Linked DNA regions of Homo sapiens: all the other regions are linked to region 1. The links come from fine-mapping of genetic effects on gene expression. A gene starts in region 1. Each other region holds a variant in brackets. All regions are shown on one strand. Distances are from middle to middle.

Region 1 (8,180 bases):
GGCGGGCTGATCACTTGAGATGGAGTTCAAGACCAGCCTGGCCAACATGGTGAAACCCTGTCTCTACTAAAAATACAAAAATTAGCCAGGCATGGGCACCTATAATCCCAGCCACTAGGGAGGCTGAGGCAGAAGAATCACTTGAACCTGGGAAGTGGAGGTTGCAGTGAGCCAAGATCACACCATTGCACTCCAGTCTGTGTAACGGAGTGAGACTCCATTTCAAAAAATGACAAAAAAAAATCTGTAATATGCCAGGTGCAGTGGCTCACACCTGTAATCTCAGCACTTTGGGAGGCTGAGGCTGACAGATGATTGAGCCCAGGAGTTCAAGACCAGCCTGAGCAACAAAGTGAGACCCTGTCTCTACAGGAAAATCAAAAAATTATCTATGGGTATGGTGGCACACACCCAGCCAGGGGAGGCTGAGGCCAGAGGATCACTTGAGCCCAAGAGGTCAAGGCTGCAATGAGTTATGACTGCACCACTGCACTCTAGCCTAGGCGACAGAGGAAGACCCTGTCTCCAAAAAAAAAAAGTAATAATCTCATATGATCTGGTGCTTAATGCCAGAGTTGAATTCTTACATAAGGGTAAATGCTTAAAAAAACAGTTTTATACCCTGTCAAGTTTACCTGCAAGAATTAGTTTGCTGGCTGGGCACAGTGGCTCACACCTGTAATCCCAGCATTTTGGGAGGCCAAAGCGGGTGGATCACTGGAGGTCAGGAGTTTCAGACCAGCCTGGCCAACATGGTAAAACCCCGTCTCTACTAAAAATACAATTAGCTGGTTGTGGTGGCCCACACCTATAATCCCAGCTACTTGGGAGGCTGAGGCACGAGAATCTCTTGAACCTGGGAGGTGGAGGTTGCAGTGAGCCGAGATCGGGCCACTGCACTCCAGCCTGGGCAACAGAGTGAGACCTATCTCAAAAACAAAACAAACAAAAGAATTAGTTTGCTATTTTAAAATAACATGCAAAGAAAATGGACTTTTTCTTGTAAAACTGGAAAGATAAGTGAATCTTCTTATAAAACTTCTTTTAAAAAATTCCATCCCTGCCTGGGCTCAAATGATGGGAAAATGTACAGAAAATCCAGTTGAGTTAGCTGGAGATACCAAATACCTCTAAATGTGAGTTATCTGCAGTTATTCTATGAACAGGAGAGCCATGTGAGGCCTCAAACTAGTATTTCAGGGAGCAGCGTGCACACTCGTGGTTTTGTGGTCTTCAACCGTCCTGCTAGCCCAGATAAGTCTGGGTGGTCAAGAACCGTCTGGTGACAGCGTGCAGCCCAGCTCAGCAGAATTCAGCATGGGGGAATTCAGCCTCCTTAGAGATGCACTCCCTGCTGAAATCTCACTGCGATGGCCGTTCCCGCCCTTCCGGGGCTCTGACCAAACACTCTGACCAGGAACGCTTCCCAACAGATAAGCAGTATTCTCCATTTGGTCTAATTTATGATTCAGAAGGAAAAGGCGAAAAACGAAAACTTTCTATTCATCTATTTTTCACACCAATGGAAGCAATGTGGTGATGTATGTATGCTGTTACAGTCACTTGTGTCCTCCTGACCTATAACATTTAGAGATCCTGTCCATATTCTTCTCAAAGCTTCTCATTAAAGCACCCAGCCCTGCGCCTGGTTCCCTGCAGAGATGGAGTAACTGCTCACCCACTTGAACAAAACGATAGTGGGGCATTAAGAGGAAGCCCCAGCTCCCAGGGAGAGGTCATCTCTCACAAGAGCTGGAACTCCACTGTCCATATCCAGGGTAGGTGAGGGGCTAACCCCAGGTCATAGCCAAGCAAGCACAAAGGCAAAAAGCCCAAAACAATCAGGATGCTCAGTGCCAGCCCAACACAGTGATAGCTGGAATGGGCAGGGCTAGAGAGAAGCCAGGACTGGAACCAGGGCGGGACCATGCAGGGAGCGGGAAAGTTTGGAGGAGCACAACAGCCCCTCCGAATGCCACCGCATCACCCTGTTCCCGGACCACAGGGAGAAGAACCACCATGCACCCTCCACCAGTATCTTGGGCAGATGGGCAGGAGCTCTAGGGCCGCTTCTCAGTGTTCCTCAGATGGAGAATCAACCTCAGGACAAATCAAGTCTGGATCCTTCTGGGCTGAATCCTTTCTAGGATTGGTACCTATCATGACATGGTCACATTCCTCCACTCCTCTATGAGAGGATGGAGTCATTGGACACCAACCTAATGCTGGCAAATGACAGACAGGAAGAGCCCCAGCAGGGCAGATGCCACAGAAACCTTAACTGGGACACAGAAACATCACTAACAAAGACCCAGCAGCTGTCTTGGTGAGGGAGACACAGTCTAACAGTCACAAAGAGGCACAACGGAGACCCTAACCCCCGGCCCTCTGCAGACACCTCTGCCTGCCCTCCCAGGGAAGCTGCCGGCCAAGATTATTTCAGGTCACCAGGCAAGACTGGGTGTAACTTGGGAATGTAAGTCTATCCAATGTCAGATCCCCAGGTGCATTCCTGTCCCTATGGCTGGTCAGAAGAAGTCTCTGCTCCTGCTCCCATCCTGCATCCCCTCCTTCCAAGGCCTACGGGCTGTGCCTCCTGGATCTGCCCCCTGGATTTCACTCACGCCTGTCCACCAGCAACACAACAAAGCGATCTTTCCAGCGCCGAGCTCTGCAGGATTCCTCAAAGGATTCCCCTGCACTCCCCACCAGGTGAGCCCTCAACTTCTCTGCTAGGTGCTCAGGACCTGGCACATCTGGCCTCTGGCCACCTTTGCAGCTTCCTCACCCTCTGCTGTCTCCAAAGCTTCCCCCGAAGGGAAAGAGTATTTTCCCTCTTTCCACCCATTTTGTCCTGAAAACTACTATCCCCCTGGGAACGACCCTATGTAGCGTGTGGGTGGCTGAGAACCCCCCTTCCACACAATGGTCAAGGCCAGGAGTACCCAAGCCCTGGCAGCAAACACCCAGCCTACTGCTCACCCAGTTAAAGGACGGACCCCTGGGTGACAGCAGGCCCCGGGGCTCAGTACACCGGACCCTTAGGCCACCTCAACACCAGTCCTCATGCCAGGCTGATCTCGAAACGTAACAGCTACTGCTCAGCAAAACGTGGTGGCTAGTGCCTGTAATCCCAACACCTTGGGAGGCCAAGACGAGAGCATGGCTTGAGTCCAGGAGTTCAAGACCAGCCTAGGCAACCTGCTAGACTCCATCTCTACAAAAAAAAAAAAAAAAAATTAAAAATTAGCCGTGCATAGTGGCATGCGCCTGTAGTCCCAGCTACTACAGAGGCTGAGGTGAAAGGATTGCTTGAGTCCAGGAGTTTGAGGCTGCAATGAGCTATGATGGCATCACTGCACTCCAGACTAGCCAACAGAGCCAGACCCTGTCTCAAAAAGAAAAAAACGAAAAGAAAGAAAAGAAAAAAAATATCCACTGCTCTACTCTTCGGCCAGTGGGAAGAGTGCATTTTTTAATCAAAATAGGGGCCTCTATCCATGAAACCCATCAACTTGTAAAATCTGAGCTCTCTGCAGCCTCACAGTCCCTCCAGCACTGCCAGCAGCCCTCGTTCCCTGCATGCTCTAAATCCTCAGCGAAGACCCGTCCCTTGCTCCCTCGCCCAGCACAGGCCGCGAGTGCCCACGTCCCCTGCACCTCGTGGGGCAGCCAAGGGGGCACCGCGTGGCTCGTGTGCTCCTGGGCAGTCCATTTTCAACCACAAGACGGAACAGACTCAGAATCCGGAACATCTCTCGGTGCTTAAGAGTTTTCCTTTAACAATCTTTACCTGTGGGAATGCAGAGACCCCCCCGCCCTGCGAGAGGCCGGCAGCCAGGGATTCCCCGCTCCGCGCCCTCATCACCCCCCGGAAACCACAACCGCTGCGCGCGCGGCTCGGACCCCCACCCGCCGCTCCCCTCCAGCAGACCCTAGGCCTCCGGGAAACCGCGCGGCGACCGCCCCGCGCCCCGCCAGATCCGAACCGCCGGACCCGGCACCCCGGCCACACCCGCCGGTGTCGACGCAGCGAGGCTCGGAGGGTGCATTCTCCGCGCCGACCGCTCCCCTCCTCCAGACCCGAGGGGCGGAGTGGGCAGGGCGCGCCGGCTGCGCACCGGGCACCCACCTGGGGACGCGGGGGCTGGGGCGGCGCGGGGCCACCTGGCGGACCCGGGAGCGGACTCCGGAGAGCAGGGAGCCCCTCCCCCCTCACTCTCCGGGCCCCGCCCGGCCGCCGCGCCCCGAGGCGCAGCCATCCCGCGGGAGGGGAGGCGCAGGAGGAGGCCAGCGCGAGGACACTTACTTAAAAGGCTACATCGCTTCATTCCCAGCCCATCCTGGGCGACGGCGGCACCTCCCTCGTCCGCTGCTGGGACCTCGATGCCCACCACCCTCGCGCGGCGATCTGGCCCTATAGCCCACCCCTTACTCCGCCGTGGGGCGGAGCCGCGCCACAGCTGACCCAATGAGAAACCGTCGTTTCCCAGAGTGACGTGTACGCAGAGCAATCATGGAGTCCAGCCCAGCCGGGGGCGGGGCTCAGGCGGCTCCCTACGCTTCCTACTCCAGCTGGCCCCGCCCCACGCCCGCAACTGCGCGTGCCCAGAACGTGAGGGGCGGGGCTGGGAGCCGGGCTGACACTAGAGGTGGGGTTAGCGCTTGGAAGCACCGACCAACGTGAGCGCAACGCGGCAGGGACACCTGACCCCGGCGGCGCCCAGCCCCTCGGATTGCCAGTCACTGCTCGCTTTGGGGCACGGAGGTGCCCAGTCCTGCGGGGCACCCGACGTCCTGTCGCCGACAGGGTCCGGGAGTCAGTATAGCTGGGTTCTAGTCCCATCACAGGCAAAAACTCCGCGGGAGCCTGGCCCGCTTTTTACCTGGGCCTCAGTTTCCCCATCCGTAAAATAGAACGGGTTGGATCTCCCGAGCGCTAACATTCCAGAACTCGGATGGGGCGAAGGGGAGGGAGGGATGGGCCACCCACACGTGACCTCCCCGCGTGGAGCCCCGCCTACCACTGATCCAGGGGGTGGCAGCTCCGGCCGGGACGAGCGGGGTGGGCGGGTCCTAGGAAACCCTACCCGGCCGCCCTTGGCAGCGCCTAAGGCGGAGCGCGCGGCTCTGCAGCCTGCTTGCCCCGGAGTTGGCACCCACGGAGGATGGGGACCGCACCCTCAGCTTCGCAGGGAGCCACCGTGGAGGCCAGGGCGGTGCAGAGACACGACGTGTGACTCGGAGTGCGCCTGGGGAGGATGGACGAGGGAGCGGGGGACCGCTAACGGGGCTCCCTCTGCGCGCCCCGTCCGCAGAGGCGCACGTCGAGGGTCCCGGGCGGGCTCCGTGGACGTTGGCGGTAGCGCCGAGCGAGTCACGGACCATGAAGAGCGTTCGTGCCGCGCGGCCCAAGGCCGGGATGGGGGTTAGCCACATCCTGCCGCGCTGAGGGGGAGGCTAACGGGCGCGGGCGGCCGGGCCCAGCCGGAGCCCACCGCGATGGCGAGGGAGGAGTGCAAGGCGCTGCTGGACGGGCTCAACAAGACGACTGCGTGCTACCACCACCTGGTGCTGACCGTCGGTGGCTCGGCGGACTCGCAGAACCTGCGGCAGGAGCTGCAAAAGACGCGCCAGAAGGCGCAGGAGCTGGCGGTGTCCACCTGCGCCCGGCTGACTGCTGTGCTGCGCGACCGGGGCCTGGCCGCCGACGAGCGCGCCGAGTTCGAGCGGCTCTGGGTGGCCTTCTCGGGCTGCCTGGACCTGCTGGAAGCGGACATGCGACGCGCGCTGGAGCTGGGCGCCGCGTTCCCGCTGCACGCGCCGCGGCGGCCGCTGGTGCGCACAGGTGTGGCTGGCGCCTCCTCCGGCGTGGCGGCGCGCGCGCTGAGCACCCGCAGCCTGCGGCTCGAGGCGGAGGGCGACTTCGACGTCGCGGACCTGCGGGAGCTGGAGCGCGAGGTCCTTCAGGTGGGCGAGATGATCGACAACATGGAGATGAAGGTCAACGTGCCCCGCTGGACCGTGCAAGCCCGGCAGGCGGCGGGCGCCGAGCTCCTGTCCACGGTCAGCGCCGGCCCCTCCTCGGTCGTGTCCTTGCAGGAGCGCGGGGGGGGTTGCGACCCCAGGAAGGCCCTGGCCGCCATCCTTTTCGGCGCCGTGCTGCTGGCGGCTGTGGCCCTAGCCGTGTGCGTGGCGAAGCTGAGCTGACGGACACCCGACGGCCGCCTGCTGCTGCCGCTCCCTCCCCTGAGAAAAGACTCGGGATGGGTGTGGGGTCTGGCCTGTGCAAGGGGAGTGGTCCTAAAACCCCGTGTGTGCATGGGTACACGCGCGTTTCCAGTGCACATCTGCCTGGGCAGGACACGGTTTCCTCTTGCTGGCCCGGGAGGAGTTAACTTTGCGCCGGCCGTCAGGGCATTACCGCTAACGTCTGCAGGAGCTTTATTCCCTATTAATAGAAAACCGTCACAGTGACCCTAGATCCCTCCGAGTTAATGAGTTAACACATGTGCTGTTGGGGCGTCTTTACAGGGAGTCCGAGTTCGGTGCCCACCCCTGCCAGCGTCGCCCCCTTTCTGCGTGGGACAGTTTGAAAAGGTGGGTGGGGTGGAGTGAAGTTTGGAGAGGGACGCTGTTTGGTTCTATGTGGTTGGTCTGTTTCCCGGACAAGAAAAATTGCAATCAAATGTCAGCAGCTTTTATTACCTTAATCTTTCAGGGCCTAAATTTAGGAGAGTGTCCCGAGAGCAGTTCATACAAAGGGCTTTCTCTAAGACGCGCTACAGCCCTTCCTAGCAGAGTTTATCCATTCGTCCCCAAGAGCAGCTAGAAGAGATTTGAGGTCATGACCTCCCACTGCCGCTCAGGGGCTGACCCTATTTAGGAAACCAAAGAGGGTGGGTTGAACCTACTCTCACGGACTTGGATCCAGTGCGCACACTTGCCTGCGGAAAAGGGCTCTCCCCAGCCACCCGGAGATGGGGGTAAGAGGAAGAGCAGAGGCTTGGGGTAGGGCCACCTGGTGTTTAAACAGGCACTTTCTCCTTCTCTGGGGCTTATTTTTGTTCAGAACTAGACCAGAGTGTTTGAACCTCCTTTGCAGGAGGGCTGGGAATCCTCTTTAGAGCACTTAATCCTATTTATCCCCTGGAATGTGCGTGCTGGCCAGTAGGAGGGCTGGCTTTGGCAGCTCCCTGACCCCCGCGCTGCCCGCCCCTCCGGGGTAATGTGGCATTACTGGCCCACAGAGGTTTTGAGCCAATCAGCTCTGAGACTGGGTTAGAATGTAACAGCTTTAACTTGGGATTTAAGAAGCTTTTAAAAGGTAATAATACTCTGAAAGAAAAATGACGTAACCACAGCGTGTACTATGAAAGCTGTTATTTTAATAAAGAACGCTGGGCCATGAACTCATACCTGCCAATGAGTCAAACATAGTATCTTTATGTAGATACTTAGATTACTAAATATATATTTCATCTACTTCTGAAGTTGATAGTCTTCCCCCCCCCCCACTTTTTTCTTTTTTGAGACAGGGTCTCCCTCTGTCACCCAGGCTGGAGTGCAATGGTGTGATTGTGGCTCACTGCAGCCTCCAAATCTCGGGCTCAAACTATCCTCCTACTTCAGCCTCCTGAGTAGCTGGAACTACAGGTGTGTGCCACCGCACCTGGCTAATGTTTTTAAGGCAGTTAATTTATTTATTTATTTTTATTTTTCTTTAGAGATAGGATCTTGTGGTGTCGCCCAGGCTGGAGTGCAGGGGCGCAATCAGCAAACCACAGCCTTGAACTCCTGGGCTCAAGCTCTCCTCCCACCTCACCCTCCCAAGTAGCTGGGACTAAAGGTGTGCATCACGGCACTCAACTAATTTTTTGTAGAGACAGAGTTGGGCTATGTTGCCCAGGCTGGTCTCAAACTCCTGGCCTCAAGTGGTCCTCCCACCTAGGCCTCCCAAAGTACTGGGACTACAGGCATAAGCTACTATGCTCAGTCTAAAATCAATATTCTTTATTTTTTTCTATAATTTCACTGCAAAATAAAATCTATATTCTTGAGTAGCCACACAAGTGTAAATGACAGAATGTTAAGTGGCCTTTAATTCTTTTGATCAACAAGTAAGAAAATGCTTGGTCCTTGGTCCCAGGATGACATCTGCCTGAGCAGTGCTGCCAAAT
Region 2 (8,180 bases), 78 kb before region 1:
TTTGCTAGAGGTCCACTCCAGACCCTGTTTGCCTGGGTATCAGCAGTGGTGTTTGCAGAACAGCGGTTTTTCATGAACCGCGAATGCTGTTGTCTGATCATTCCTCAGGAAGTTTTGTCTCAGAGTACCTGGCCGTGTGAAGTGTCAGTCTGCCCCTACTGGGGGGTGCCTCCCAGTTAGGCGGGTCAGGAGTCAGGGATCCACTTGAGGAGGCAGTCTGCCCATTCTCAGATCTCCAGCTGCGTGCTGGGAGAACCACTGCTCTCTTCAAAGCTGTCAGACAGGGACATTTAAGTCTGCAGAGGTTACCGCTGTCTTTTTGTTTGTCTGTGCCCTGCCCCCAGAGGTGGAGCCTACTGAGGCAGGCAGGCCTCCTTGAGCTGTGGTGGGCTCCACCCAGTTCGAGCTTCCAGGCTGCTTTGTTTACCTAAGCAAGCCTGGGCAATGGCGGGCGCCCCTCCCCCAGCCTCGCTGCCGCCTTGCAGTCAGCGAGACTCTGTGGGCGTAGGACCCTCCGAGCCAGGTGCGGGATATAATCTGGTGCGCCGTTTTTTAAGCCCGTTGGAAAAGGCGCAGTATTTGGGTGGGAGTGACCCGATTTTCCAGGTGCCGTCTGTCACCCCTTTCTTTGACTAGGAAAGGGAACTCCCTGACCCCTTGTGCTTCCCGAGTGAGGCAATGCCTCGCCCTGCTTCGGCTAGCGCACGGTGGGCTGCACCCACTGACCTGCACCGTCTGGCACTCCCTAGTGAGATGAACCCGGTACCTCAGATGGAAATGCTGAAATCACCCATCTTCTGCGTTGCTCACGCTGGGAGCTGTAGACCAGAGCTGTTCCTATTCGGCCATCTTGGCTCCTCCCTGACCAAAAGCTTTTAAGCACGTGTACCAGCATGACTCTACCCTTTGCAACTGTGCCATGAATATTAGATAGGAAAAGTGTCCGTGGCGGAAACAGAAGCTGCTCCAGCACTCTTCAGGAAGAAAAATATAGCAGCAGCAGCAGCAGCCGCCAATAACATAAGGGGAATTAAAACCTGTCCATCAGACTGAATCAGGTTCAACATTTGAGCACATCTAATATTCTAAGATGTAGATTCTGAAAGCAGGTAAGCTCTTTCTCTTCCTGCAGATACTACTTCCACTTAATGTAAGAAAATTCCTAGCTTTGCCAGGCACAGTGGCTAACACCTGTGATCCCAGCACTTTGGGAGGCTGAGGCTGGCAGGTCATTTGAGGTCGGGAGTTTGAGACCAGCCTGGCCAACATGGTGAAACCCTGTCTCTACTAAAAATATAAAAATTAGCTGGGCGTGGTGGCACACACCTGTAATCCCAGCTACTTGGGAGGCTCGAACCTGGTAGGCAGAGGTTGCAGTGAGCTGAGATCAGGCCATTGCACTCCAACCTGGGTGATTCCATCTCAAAGAAAAAAAAAAGCTAGCTTTGATCTCATTTATAATTGTTTTTCAGAGGTACTGATATTAACAAATACCACTCCCTCCAAAATAACTAGAGTGATAATGACTGAAAAAGAAAATGACCAAAATAGACATGTTGGTAATGCTACTACAGTAATAAACATGTTTGTAAGAGAAATGACTTCTAATGATTTCAAATCCAGTTGAGACACTTCAGCATTTAAACATTTTGGTAACATATCACTGATAATGTTGCAGGTGACTTAAATGTTCTCTCTTTTGTTGTGCTTTCTTTCCACTAGGTTATGAAAACCTGCACTCATAAGTTACGGTTTTCAGAGACGGAGACTTGCTGTGTTGCTGAGGCTGGCCTCAAACTCCTGAGTTTAACTGATCTTCCCACCTCAGCCTCCCTCGTAGCTGAGACTGTAGGTGCAAGCCACTGCTCATATATTTAAATCATAAACTTAACCATCAACCAGCTGTTTGGTGTAACCTTTTAAATGTCGTAGTCCTGTGAGACCTAGCACAGGATTAAATTCATAAATTTAACAAGGTGAATAGGATTAGTAAAAAAATGAAGGGAAATGTGGTTTGCAAACCCCAGTCTCTGCGTTAGCCAGCATACTACTGATACATGTTTAAACTGGAGATTCTACTATATTTGAAATTTGCAACTATTGTCAGTGAAGAAATAGAACAATATCTAACATTATAAATAAGTAGAACCGTTGAGAACATCAACATATTTTTAAAAGAATGATCATAAGATGAAATCTGGCTGGGGATTTTCTGTCAGGGTAAACTGGTAATTTAAAAAAAATTTGGTCGGGGATTTTGAAAAAAATCCCATTTACAGGTAAATTTTGCTTTAGGCCTCATTTACATACAAATGCTAGGAGGACATGAGGCAGTTCACAAGTTCTGTGCTTTCTCACAGGATAACCACTGTCCTAATGGCAACTGCTGTGAGTGTGTTTAAAGATGGTCAGACTCTTTCAGACACCTACCTGAGAGTGAAAAGTGGTTCCATGTACAAGGAGAGAGGTTCCTGATGGCAATAAGAGGCTGGAGTACATTTTAGGGAGTGGAGAGTGGTTATTCTAAACTTTCTAATTTAAATCAGTGAACTTGCGTTACTTTGAATTCAAAACTTTTTTCCACAAAAATGGAAATTAGGGGCATTAATTTCTCAACTGTCACATCAAGTTTTGGGTAGGGAAAGCAATTGGAAAAAACAACTGGTTGTTTGCTTTTTTTTGAGATGGAGTATTGCTCTGTTGCCAGGCTGGAGTGCAGTGGCATGATCTTGGCTCACTGCAACCTCTCTCCCAGGTTCAAGCAATTCTCCTGCCTCAGCATCCCAAGTAGCTGGGATTACAAGCGCACGCCACCACACCCAGCTAATTTTTGTACTTTTAGTATAGACAGGGTTTCACCATGTTGGCCAGGATGACAACTGTTTTTTAAAAATAATCGAGGGAGTCACTTAAGATGGAAAACATTACTGATGACCAGAATAGCTCAAAAAGAAACAGCATTTACCTCTCCAGAGGAAGGGTACACCAAGCTTGCAGCTGCCACTGCCAACCAGGCCTTGATCCTGGCTGTGAGATCCCTCGCAGTCCCCTTATTTTTCTGAACCTGTTTCCTCATTTGACAATTCTACCATTCACAGTGATTGTTGAAATTAAATGGGTATATGTGAAAATGTTTTCAGCTGGGCGCAGTCGCTCATGCCTGCAATCCCAGCACTTCGGGAGGCCAATGTGGGCAGATCACTTGAGGTCAGGAGTTCAAGACCAGCCTGGCCAACATGGTGAAACCCCATCTCTACCAAAGATATAAAAATTAGCCAGGCATGGATGGTGGCAGGTACCTGTAATCCCAGCTATGCGGGAGGCTGAGGCAGGAGAATTGCTTGAATCTGGGAGGCAGAGGCTGCAGTGAGCCGAGATGGTGCCACTGCACTCCAGCCTGGGTGACAGAGCGAGACTCCATCATCTCAAGAAAATGTTTTCAAAATTATATTGCACTACCCCAACATATTAGGTGGTGTCAAATGTGTGTATTTGTATCTTGAGAATACCTGTGCTGATAAACTGTATAGGATGTATTAATTAGGATGGTATAGAACCACAGCAGCTTCAGTCTATAAGGTGGTTTTGTTTAAAAGTAGGGAAGGCTGGGCATGGTGGCTCACACCTGTAATCCCAGCACTTTGGGAGGCCGAGGCGGGCGGATCACGAGGTCAGGAGATTGAGACCATCCTGGCTAACACGGTGAAAAACCCTGTCTCTACTAAAAATACAAAAACAAAAAAACAAAAACAAAAAAAACACTAGCCGGGCATGGTGGTGGGTTCCTATAGTCCCAGCTACTCAGGAGGCTGAGGCAGAAGAATTGCTTGAACCTGGGAGGCGGAGGCTGCAGTGAGCCGAGATGGTGCCACTGCACTCCAGCCTGGGTGACAGAGCGAGACTCCATCTCAAAAAAAAAAAAAAAAGGGAAAAGGAAAAATCAGAACAAAGAAATTAGCAAAGCAACAGGGCTCATTTCCTGTTTGTTTGGGGTAGGAAGCTGTATTCATTTTATTCTTCTGATTTCCAAAGAAAAACATTTTTGTGGGCCCGGGACACTGTGCCTACTGGGTTAAGTAGGCCTTGGTCAGTAGATGAATAATGAGCTAAGTGATCAAGTTCCCATGTTTCAATCTCACATCTATAACTGAAAAATGTATATCCATTCAATGGGGACCCTTTTTCTCACACACAAAGCACATGTTTACAGCAGACAGGCTGAGAAACATATCATCTGCAGCCAAACAACTAAAAAAAAATACCATGACACAGTCAAGAATCATAAAGTTTACTGTTTCTTTTCCATCATTTGGCACATATCCAAGGCACATTAGAAAATTAGAAATCATAAATTACTTTGTAGAAAAATAATCCCTCCCTTCCTTCTGTACATACACAAGT[A/G]TTTCCAAGAACATGGACAAAACCATTTCCCTATCACAAGGTCATTTGAAAACGGACTCAGGACAAACCCATATACGTGTAGCTCTAGGCCAATAACATAAAAATAACAGTATAATCTATAGAAATTTATAAAAAGGAATAAATGGCAATAAATTCTAACCGAAAGTAACTCTGACCTGGTTTGTGCTGTTAAGTTTTGAATTTGAATCAAAAGACTAAGAAAAGATGTGCCAAATCTACTCTCTAATCCAGTAACCATCCCGTCAGGTGTGAGTGTGACAGACATTCAAGGGAGGTTCTCAACAAAAAGGGATGTTTCTAGAAATACTGCTACAGGTGCACGTGTAGTAACCGAATATCTGTACCTACTTGTTAGAAGGAAAATGATAACCACCCTTTCCCATGTGCATGATGTGGAACAGGTCTGATGCATCCTTTCACTAAAATGAATATCAAAATGGGATTGAGGCATCTTTTGGTTCGAGTGTTGCTTTGCAAAGAAACATTGTCCAGCTGCTGCTTTCTTCCTTCAGATATGACATTTCAGCCTGGCCTCTACAGTACCATGAAACCTAAATTACTTACTTCTCTCCAGCTTAATCCTAGGTGGAGGAATTCTAGCTGTGGTTTGTGAATGTACACAGGTCAGAGAGGTTTAGCACCTTTTGGGAGGAGGAGGTCAGAATGCGGTGGTGAAACCTCTCCCACTGTGACCAACAAACCCTCATACTTAAAAAGAAGCATGCACCTCTGGCTTAAGGATCTGGATGCTACTGGAATTTTTGTCTGTTTCAATTGTATTCATTAGCTTTGAAGAGGAGAGAGATGGTGGTGGTTAACTTTTTTGTTGCATTCTTTCCTGCCACAGAAAAGCTTTCAGGAACTTGGTGCTGAAGACTTCTCAAGCCAGTCTCATGGAAGCACATTTAGTTCTCAGATGTGTTCACGCTCAGCATCATCTTGTTGCATCCTTGCTTCCTAGCAGTGGGTTCAACAACTCCTCATTCCTGTTAGGACCGGGAAGCACTAACCTCTTGGGGAGTGGAGAGGGGGCCAGCAGCCTCCGGGCCCTGGGACACGACCGCATCCTCTACCGTGTGTCTCCGCAGCATCCGTCTGTGTCCAGGGCCAGTCTGTGTCAGTCCAGGCCTCTCTGGCCAGTCGCTGTTGCCTTTCTCAGCAGCATGAGATCCACTCTGAGCTGGCAGGTTATTCTGTCTCAGTGTGACACTTTGCCTCCCTGGCTAAAGAAAAAGTACATTTTTAACCGTTGACGTCCTCACTGTACTGGAAGCCACAACCATGACAGTGACAGCTGCCCCTTAGTGCCTAGTGTCACATAATGTGCTCAGTGCTTGACAGGCATAATTTCAATTCTCACATCCCTGTCGTGGTAACATGGCATGTGCATACTACATGTGTCAGAGTAAATGTTTCACTTGTTTTCACAATCTTTATGACTCTAGGAGGCATGTACTACTATTGTTATCCCCGTTTTACACCTGAGGAAACAGGATCAGCAAAGTTAAGCCACCTGCCTAAAGTCCTACAGCTAGCAAGGGAAAAGCTAGCACTTGATGGAACTCAGGCAGATTTCAACGATTCTGGCTTTCCCACAAAGCAGCAGGTCTCCTAGCAACACCACATAAGACTAAATATGGTATCAAAATTAGTCATGTTAATTAAAATCATTTTAATTATCTAAAACAATTTAGAACTTTTGTGTATTTGTTCCAACAAGCCTATGCTACATATGCTATAAATTCTCATCAGCAACAAGGAAAGCTGTGGTTCTGAGAAGAATCACTGTCTCCGATCACAGGTTTTCAATCAAGCTTCTGAGTGATTTAAAAATGCAGTAGGGTCCGGGCACGGTGGCTCACACTTGTAATCCCAGCACACTGGGAGGCCAAAGCGGGCAGATCACTTGAGGTCAGGAGTTCAAGACCAGCCTGGCCAACGTGGTGAAACTGCGTCTCTACTAAAAATACAAAAAAATTAGCCAGGAATAGTGGCACATGCCTGTAATCCCAGCTACTCAGGAGGCTGAGGCGGGAGAATGCTTGAACCCGGGAGGTGGAGACTGCAGTGAGCCGAGATCGTGCCACTGCACTCCAGCCTGGGCCACAGAGCAAGACTCTGTCTCAAATAAATAAATAAAAAAATGTAGTGGGAAGATGGCCACATAAAGAATTGTCTGAGCAACTGTACACCATACTTGGAGACATCATTTACCCATCTATATACAAACTGTCGTTTTCTTTCTTTGGTGATTAAAACCATAGTGAAATGTGGGATGTTTCATCTCCTATAAGCACCAAGACCTGTGGTTTCCCACACATGTAACACTTTCCACTCCTCTGCTCAGAAATGTACTTTTAGTTATAACAATCAGTGAAGTCTGTACTCTACACTGTCCCATGAAATAATTCCAGTTTTAACTGCTGCTAACTCATACGGCGCACGGAATAATGAAGATGACGATCAAGGAGACGTGTTTACCATGGATTACTTTTGACAAAGCCGGGCTTTAGAAAATATGATTAAAAGCCAGTGTTTAATAACTTACCTCATGCAAAGAACCTTCGGTTAAATTAGGGACACTTCTATCTCTTGCCATAATCTCCCTTGAAGTCTTTCCCCTAAAACCCAAAATAAACGAAAATAAATATTTGGGACAGTGGCATGAAACACTCTGGTTGGCCACAAGGTGGCAGCATTTTTGACATTAGTAGGTGCAGATTTGTCCATAACCAATTACAATTGAAGCAGCTTACGTGCAGCTTGGAGTAAACTAGGGGCAAAAGCACAGAAATCAACTTGAGTTTCATACTCACTTAAACTGACCAGCTGAGTGGACAAAGTAAAACTGTCTTGTAAAAGGCTCATCTGGTAGATCATACAGTTTTGAGTTCCCTGTAGATAAAAAGATAAACATCTAAAAACTTCAAAAACAGTTGTAAAGATTATTTTAAAATTACAGCACAGACACAATCTTTCTATTCTCAGATTTACAAAATTTAGAAACTGAAGCACTGAATTTGCTTAAAGAAACACAGCTAGTACCTATTTATAACAGGTTGAGTATCTCCAATCCAAAAATCTAAAGCCTAAAATGCCACAGGCTGGGTGCAGTGGCTCATGCCTGTAATCCCAGCAGTTTGGGAGGCCGAGGTGGGCATATCACTTGAGGTCAGGAGTTCAAGACCAGCCTGGGCAACATGGAGAAACCCCATCTCTACCCAAAATACAAAAACTTAGCCAGGCGTGGTGGCACGCACCTATAATCCCAGCTACTCAAGAGGCTGAGGCAGGAGACTCGCTTGAACCCAGGAGGCAGAGGTTGCAGTGAGCCGAGATTGCACCACCACACTCCAGCCTGGGCGACAGAGCAAGACTCCATCTCAAAAAAAAGCTACAAAATCCGAGACATTTTGAACTCTTTGACTTCATGCTCAGAAGAATCTGATTTCCTGATTTGGATCCTCAACCAATGAGTATAATGCAAATATTCCAAAACCCAAAACACTGCTGGTCCCAAGCATTTGAGATAGGGGGTAGTCAGCCTGTATTATGAGAACCCCCATGAAATAGAAAAATAAAACCTTAACTCCCTTAACTCCCCCAGCCACAACCAATTACGGTGAGACAGTCTCAGGGTTATCGAGATATGTGAATGGGTTTATCCATATTATTGTATTGCATTATTGCATACCTCACTGGATAATATTTCATATTGTAAATTAAAAAAAAAAGTAGAACAAGGACCCCTTCTAAAC
Region 3 (8,180 bases), 180 kb after region 1:
TTTGTAGGGACATGGATGAAACTGGAAACCATCATTCTCAGCAAACTATTGCAAGGACAAAAAACCAAACACCGCATGTTCTCACTCATAGGTGGGAATTGAACAATGAGAACACATGGACACAGGAAGGGGAACATCACACTCCGGGGACTGTTGTGGGGTGGGGGGAGCGGGGAGGGATAGCATTAGGAGATATACCTAACGTTAAAATGACGAGTTAATGGGTGCAGCACACCAACATGGCACATGTATACATATGTAACAAACCTGCACATTGTGCACATGTACCCTAAAACTTAAAGTGTAATAATAATAAAATTAAAAAAAAAGAAGAATTGATATCAGGCCAGCCACTGTGCCTTACACCTGTAATCCCAGCACTTTGGGAGGTTGAAGTGGGTGGATTGCTTGAGGCCGGGAGTTTGAGACCAGCTTGGGCAACATAGTAAGACCTCACATCTACAAAAAACTTAATATTAGCCATGCATGGTGGCACGTGCCTGTGGTCCCAGCTACTTGAGAGGCTGAGGTGGGAGGATCACTTAAGCACAGGGAGGGGTCTGAGGCTGCAGTGAGCCATGATTGCACCACCACACTCCAGCCTGGGCGACAGCGAGACCCTGTCTCAAAACGACGAACAAAAACCCTAAATCAAGACTTGATATCATAAAGGTCACATACTCTAATTACAGTGCAGTAAAATTAGAAGTCAATACAAATGCCACAAAGACCCATCTATTTACAACTACATATCTTAACTTTGAATTGATATGAACTTGATATTAATTCCCAAAAGAAGTGAAACCAGGAGGATGGGAGTTGATTAATGGAAGGGAGATTTAGACACAAGGTGAATACTGTCAAATCTTTTTATCAGTCCTCCAGAAATTAATATAGAAATTCCATAAAATCAGAATGCAAGCAGTACTTTTGGAACCGGACAAAATAATTCTAAGTGTATAGGGAATGCTAAACAGACAAGGAGAAGTCTGACGTGGGAGCGTTAGTCCTGCCAGATTTTACAAGACCAAAGCTATAAACTTTTTTTTTTTTTTTTTTTTTTTTGAGAGACGGAGTCTCGCTCTGTCACCCAGGCTGGAGTGCAATGGTGCAATCTCGGCTCACTGCAACCTCCGTCCCCCAGGTTCAAGCCATTCTCCTGCCTCAGCCTCCTGAGTAGCTGGGATTATAGGCGCCCACCACGTCCGGCTAATTTTTGTACTTTTAGTAGAGACAGGGTTTCACCATGTTGGCCAGGCTGGTCTTGAACTCCTGACTTTAAGTGATCCACCCACTTCGGCCTTCCAAAGTGCTGGGATTACAGGCGTGAGCCACCACGCCTGGCCCATGTCATTCCATTTAGATGAAATGTCAAGAAAAAGCAGTTATAGAGACAGAAGTAGATTAGTGGTTGCCTGGAGCTGCGGGTGAAAGCAGGGATTAATTAGGCAATGAGGAAACTTTTTGGGGTGATGGAAATGATCTAGAATTGGATTGTGATGTTTGTACAGCCTTATAAATTTATGAAAATAATTGAGTTGTATAATTACAAAGGGTGAGTTTTATATTTGTACCTTAATTAGAACTGTTAAAATTGTGTTTGTGTATACTAGCAATAAACTATCAGAAACTAAAAATTAAGCAACTTTTTTTTAACAGTACCATTTACAATAGTATGAAAAATGAAATTCTTTGGAATAAATTTGACAAAAGATGTGCAAGAACTATATACCAAAAACTACTCAAAAAACTTTTTTTTACAGAAAATTAAGCCAGGCCCAGTGGCTCACGCCTGTAATCCCAACACTTTGGGAGGCTGAGGCAGGTGGATCACTTGAGGCCAGGAGTTTAAGACCAACCTGGGCAACATGGTGAAACCCTGTCTCTACTAAAAATACAAAAATTAGCCAGGTGTGATGGTATATGCCTGTAATCCCAGCTACTTGGGAGGCTGAGGCATGAGAATCGCTTGAACCTGGGAGGCAGATGTTGCAGTGAGCCAGGATCGTGTCACTGCATTCCAGCCTGGGTGACAAAGCAAGATCCTGTCTCAAAAAAAAAAAAAAAAAAACACCAACAAACAAAAAAGTTGTTAAAACAAGATTAAAGACCTAAATAGTCCACCCATGGATTGGAAGACTCAGTATTTTTTTTTTTTTTGGAGACAAGGTCTCACTCTGTCTCCCAGGCTGGAGTGCAGTGCAGTGGTGCAATCTCAGCTCACTGCAGCCTCGACCTCCTGGGCTCACACGATCCTCCCACCTCAGTCTCCTGAGTAGCTGGGACCACAGGCATGTGCCACCATGCCTGGCTAAGTCTATTGTACTTTTTGTAGACATGGGGTCTCACTATGTTGCCTAGGCTGGTCTCTAACCCATGGGCTCAAGCAGTCCTCCCCCTCGGCCTCCCAAAGTGCTTTGATTACAGGTGTGAGCCACCGTACCCATGCTGGAAGACTCAGTACTTTTAAGACAGCAGAGTCTTCCCCCAGTTGATCTATGGATTCAACCCAGTCCTGATCAAAATCCCAACAGCTTTACTATAGAAACTGGCAAGCTGATTGTAATATTCATATGCAAGTGGGAAAGCTGCCAGAATGAAATTGGACCCTTATCTCACCCCTTAGACAAGAAATCTACTCAAAATGGATATAAGACTTGAAACTGTAAAATTCCTAGGAGAAAACAGGCAAGCTCTGTAACATTGGTCTGGGCAATGATTTTTTGTTGTTGTTGTTTTTGAGACGGAGTATCTCACTGTGTCGCCCAGGCTGGAGTGCACTGGTGCGATCTCGGCTCACTGCAACCTCTGCTTCCCGGGTCAAGCAATTCTCCTGCCTCAGCCTCCTGAGTAGCTGGAATTACAGGCATCTGCCACCATGCCCCACTAATTTTTGTATTTTTAGTAGAGACAGGGTTTCACCATGTTGGCCAGTTTGGTCTCGAACTCCTGACCTCATGTGATCCACCCACCTCGGCCTCCCAAAGTGCTGGGATTACAGGCGTGAGCCACTGCACCTGGCCTTGGGTATATATTTGAATGAATTGAAATCATATGCCAGATACCTGCACTCCTATGTACCTCTGGGTATATATTTGAATGAATTGAAATCCACATGTCAGGTGTCTGCACTCCCATGTTCATTACAACGTTATTCACCACAGCCAAGACATGGACACAACCTAAGTGTCCATCACAGATGAATGAATAAAAATAATGTAATAGATACACAATGGAATACTATTCCGACTCTAAAGAGAATGGAATTCTGTCATCTTTTGACAACAGAGATGACTCTAGAGAACATTATGCTAAGTGAAATAAGCCAGACACAGAAAGACAAATATCCCATGATCTCCCTTATGTATTATGGAGTCCTAATTAGGGAAAATGAGTCAGGCTGGTGGGACCAAGGGAAAGCCAAAAGAGATAAGACAGATAAGCTACAAGCCCGCCTTTCTTCATGGTCCAGGACACATAGCCCCCCTGCACAAATAACTTACAAGCTTCCTGTGCCCAGTGATCGCCAGTCCCTCAGCTAATAGAAAAATGCAGCCGGGCGCGGTGGCTCACGCCTGTAATCCCAGCACTTTGGGAGGCCAAGGCGGGCGGATCACGAGGTCAGGAGATCAAGACCATCCTGGCAAACACGGTGAAACCCCATCTC[T/C]ACTAAAAATACAAAAAAAAATTAGCCGGGCGTGATGGCAGGCACCTGTAGTCCCAGCTACTCAGGAGGCTGAGGCAGGAGAATGGCGTGAACCTGGGAGGTGGAGCTTGCAGTGAGCCGAGATCATGCCACTGCACTCCAGCCTGGGTGACAGAGCAAGACTCCGTCTCAAAAAAAAAAATAGAAAAATGCAAGTTAGCTCACTGCAACCTTGGCATTATCAGTACTGCACGTACCCCTGTCCAGCACACAGCACAAGCACCATCCTACAAAATCCCCAGCAAGCCTTTGTCTCTTTGCAGTCAGTTCCTCTCTTGCTGACCTGCTCATTGCACCCTTGCAATGTATTTTCCTACTTTCTGTAATAAATCTGCCTTTCCTGACCTACAGCTGTCTTGGTAAATTCTTCTTATCCCTGTACCACCAGCCCAGATAGTTGTAATCATCTGCAACATACATGAAATCTAAAAATTCAAACATAGCAATAGAGAGTAGAATGCTGGTTACCAGAGGCTGAAGGAAGAGGGGCCTGGGATGGCAAAAGGGGAAATGTTGGTCAAAGGCTACAGAGTTTCAGTATGATGGGAGGAATAAGCTCTGGTGATCTACTGCACAGCAAGGTGACTATTGTTAGTAATAGTGTATATTTCAAAATAGCTAGTGGTTTTTTTTTTTTTTTCTGAGACGGAGTCTTGCTCTGTTGCCCAGGCTGGAGTGCAGTGGCGTGATCTTGGCTCACTGTAAGCTCTGCCTCCTGGGTTCACGCCATTCTCCTTCCTCAGCCTCCCAAGTAGCTAGGACTACAGGCGCCCGCCACCACGCACAGCTAATTTTTGGTAATTTTAGTAGAGATAGGGTTTCACCATGTTAGGCAAGATGGTCTCGATCTCCTGACCTCGTGATCTGCCCGCCTCGGCCTCCCAAAGTGCTGGGATTACAGGCGTGAGCCACCATGCCCAGCCAGTGAATTTTTAATGTTCTCAGCATAAAGAAGTATGTGAGGTGATACATATGCCATTCCACAATGTTTACATGTATTGAAACATCACACTGTACCACATACATATATGCAATTATTGTTGTTATTTTTTAGAGGCAGGGTCTTACTCTGTTACCCAGGCAGGAGTGCAGTGGTGTGATCGTGGCCCACTGCAGCCTGGAACTTCTGGGCTTCTGGAACTACAGGCATGGGCCTCTACACCCAGCTAATTTTTAAATTTCTTTTTGTAGAGACGGAGTCTCACCATGTGGCCCAGACTAGTCTCGAACTCCTGGCCTCAAGCAATCCTCCTGCCTCAGCCCATATAAGCAATTATTATTTGTCAATTTAAAATAAGGCGGCCGGGTGTGGTGGCTCACACCTGTAATCCCAACACTTTGGGAGGCTGAGGCAGGTGGATCACGAGGTCAGGAGTTCAAGACCAGCTTGGCCAAGATGGTGAAACTCCGTCTCTACTAAAAATACAAAAATTAGCCAGGCATGATGGCAGGTGCCTGTAATCCCAGCTACTCCAGAGGCTGAGGCAGAAAATTGCTTGAACTAGGGAGGCGGAGACTGCAGTGAGGCGAGATCACACCACTGCACTCCAGCCTGGGTGACAGAGCAAGACTCCATCTCAAAAATAATATAAGGCTGGGCACGATAGCTCATGCCTGTAATTCCAGGGCTTTGGGAAGTGGAGGCAGGAGGATCACTTGAGCCAGGAGTTCGAAATGGGCCTGGGCAACATGGTGAAACCCCATCTTGACTAAGAATACAAAAGTTAGCTGGGTGTGATGGCACGTGCCTGTGGTCCCAGCTATTCCAGAGGCTGAGGAGGGAGGATTGCTTGAGCCCAGGAGGTAGAGGCTACAGTGAGCCAAGATCATGCCAGTGTGCTCCAGCCTGGGCGACAGAGTGAGACCTTGCCTCAAAATTAATTAGTTAATTAAAATTTAAATTTAAAATTTATAAAGAAATACAAAGGATCTAGCCAAAACGCTTTTGACAAAGAATGAAGTTGGAGGCCTAGCACTACATGTATTTCGGTTTGGCTTTAGAAGAATGATTTTATGGTATTTCATTTTTTAACATACACAGACTTTGTCAATTTCACTCTGAAATATATCCATTCAGAACACTGGACAACTAAGCCAAGACACGTGTTCGAGGATGTTCACTGCGGCAACGTTCATGGAAACCACCCACACCCAGGTGTGAGTGAAGGATTTGTTAAGTTATGCTACATCTGAAAGTGTGATACAACACAGCTGGTGGCAGTCTCTAGACCAGATGGGTCTAAAGGATTGGCAAACCACAGCTGTTTGGGCAAATAAAGTTTTATTGGAACATGACCATGGCTGTTCACTCTTGGGTACCAAGGCAGAGTTGAGAATCTGTGACAGAGGTTTATGCAGCCTGCGAGCCTGGAATATTTACCATCTGGCCCTTTAAGGGAAAGTTAGCCAATTCTGGGTTATTTATTAATTTGCTAATTAGCAAATTAGTTTGTATATATTAACATGGGGAAGATGTTCAGGAAATATCACTATGTGAAAAATATCACTAGGTGAAAAGGTAAAAAGTGCCACGTGGAAAACCAGTGCCTCATTCACGCGGTGTCGCTTCCCTTCGCCTCAGCATGGGCAGCTTCCCCCCCATGTTGGGAACTAGGGCCCCCTGGAGTGGAAAGGCTGAGATTCCAGGCAGCCTTGATCAATTCCCGTGTGCAGGCCCATCCATGCCTTCCTGGCCAGTTTGCGGTGTGGGTTCAAGCTACATCCCTTCTCTGGATTTGGGTCTCCTACTTGTACTGGCGTGGGTTTCGCCTGGCAGAACCCTGAGGATTTTAGCTGTGTGTCTTCCTCGGGGGTGATATTGCTTTCGCCGCCCCTGTCCACCCTGGGAGTGACGGTGGGGGTCCCCTACCTGCCCGCTGTGAAGCAGGTCCCGTTAGCAGCACCGATGGTTGAAAATGCCACAAAAAGTGGAACGATCCAAGAAGCAGGATAGAGAACACGGTCACCAAATGTCTGGTGAGAGAAGCGAGATGAGTCCTGAGGGTCTTTCTTGGCCTCCAAGAGCGGCCGGCCCCCAAAAGCTATTCTGGCCTCCCAGGGGACCCAGGGACCCACCTCGCCTCGGGGCACAGCCTCTGACTCCTCCACTGCAGAGGAGAGAGGAGAACGCCACTCGCCTATCTCCAGATATTGTGATGGCAAGAGAAGTCTCTTATCTACTACTCCCTGGCATAAATCTTTATTTATTTATTTATTTATTTATTTATTTATTTCTGAGATGGAGCTTTGCTCTTATTGCCCAGGCTGGAGTGCAATGTTGCTGTCTCGGCTCACTGCAACCTCTGCCTCCCAGGGTCAAGCGATGCTCGTGCCTCAGCCTCCCAAGTAGCTGGGATTACAGGCGCATGCCACCACATTCAGCTAATTTTTGTATTTTTAGTAGAGACGGGATTTCACCACGTTGGCCAGGCTGGTCTCAATCTCCTGACCTTGCGATCCACCCATCTCGGCCTCCCAAAGTGCTGGGATTACAGGCATGAGCCACCATGCCTGGCCAAATCTTTATTTTTTAATTTGATTTTTTTTGGAGACAGGATCTTGCTCTGTCGCCCAGGCTGGAGTGTAGTGGCGTGATCACGTCTCACTGTAGCCTCAATCTCCTGGGCTCAAGTGATCCTTGCCTCAGTCTTCTAAGTAGCTGAGACCACAGGCACTCGCCACCACACCCAGCTGCGTAATTCTTGGTCATTTCAATATCCTGACACCTTCACCTCTCACTTCCCTGAACCCCCACTCCAACCGGAATGGCTGAATTCTCCCTCCCACCTCAGCAGCCCCCAGTCTTGTGGTCAGTGACCTCAACACTTATCCAAACTGCGTCTCCTCCACCTTCCAAATCCCCAACACGTGGTTGTCTGTTTGCAACTGCAGGAGGCCCCCAGCCACCTCTTCACTGACCCCAATGCCTCTCACCTCTCACCTTCTATGATTCATTATTATTTAGGGTGGTGCAAAAGTAATTGCCAGTTTTGCCAAAAATATATATATTTTTTAATATATAATGACCTAATATAATGACCTCCCCCGACTCCCTGGCACTTTCTGCCTCTGCTTCATGCTTGCCTGCCGAACCCTCACCCTGGCTAGCCCGGCCCTGCCTCCAGCTCCATGCCGTGCGTGCCCAGTCCATGTCCCCGTCCGTGAATATCGCCCTCCTTCCCTGGGAGGGAGCTCACCTCCAGTGCTGACACCTGCCTTACCCCTTCCCACAAGCCACAGCCCCCGCCAGCAGCGATGCCCGGGCACTCACCACAGCCACCGCCTGGGACTGCAGGAGTTCGGTGGCAGTCATCACGGTGAAGTAGGACACGTTCATGAGGATGTAGCACGCCGTCACCAGGGGGATCCCGATGATAATGGCCAAAGGCAGGTTTCTGGGAGGGGCAATGACACGGAGACCCACGTTCAGACCACAGCCTCCCGCGGAAGATGGACGCCCTCCCTGAGGCCCTCC

What was found. PIP is the estimated chance that this variant, and not a neighbour inherited with it, causes the effect.
Region 2: its variant is fine-mapped to the expression of ANKRD27 in whole blood (TOPMed, PIP above 0.99). The same link has a PIP of 0.9 or more in blood mononuclear cells.
Region 3: its variant is fine-mapped to the expression of ANKRD27 in whole blood (INTERVAL, PIP above 0.99).

Annotation. Positions count from the first base shown.
Region 1 is chr19:32,670,762-32,678,941 of GRCh38, forward strand. It overlaps ANKRD27 (ankyrin repeat domain 27), which reads right to left and starts at 4,419. Exons shown (of 29, transcript NM_032139.3): 1 at 4,310-4,419. RGS9BP (regulator of G protein signaling 9 binding protein) reads left to right here and starts at 5,087. Exons shown (of 1, transcript NM_207391.3): 1 at 5,087-7,539. The coding sequence starts at 5,503. The coding sequence ends at 6,210. RefSeq lists silencers at 3,904-3,953, 3,974-4,703, 5,274-5,333 and enhancers at 4,347-4,966, 4,854-4,963, 5,734-5,783.
Region 2 is chr19:32,592,734-32,600,913 of GRCh38, forward strand. ANKRD27 (ankyrin repeat domain 27) reads right to left here. Exons shown (of 29, transcript NM_032139.3): 27 at 7,239-7,317; 28 at 6,971-7,043; 29 at 4,273-5,645. The coding sequence ends at 5,412. Among named protein-coding and RNA genes, the nearest start is that of SNORA68B, 12 kb to the right of the region's middle. RefSeq lists enhancers at 1-465, 256-1,455, 466-965. The variant A/G (reference allele first, on the strand shown) is at 4,402.
Region 3 is chr19:32,851,865-32,860,044 of GRCh38, forward strand. It overlaps SLC7A9 (solute carrier family 7 member 9), which reads right to left. Exons shown (of 13, transcript NM_014270.5): 8 at 7,977-8,100; 9 at 6,576-6,679. Among named protein-coding and RNA genes, the nearest start is that of SLC7A9, 14 kb to the right of the region's middle. The variant T/C (reference allele first, on the strand shown) is at 3,668.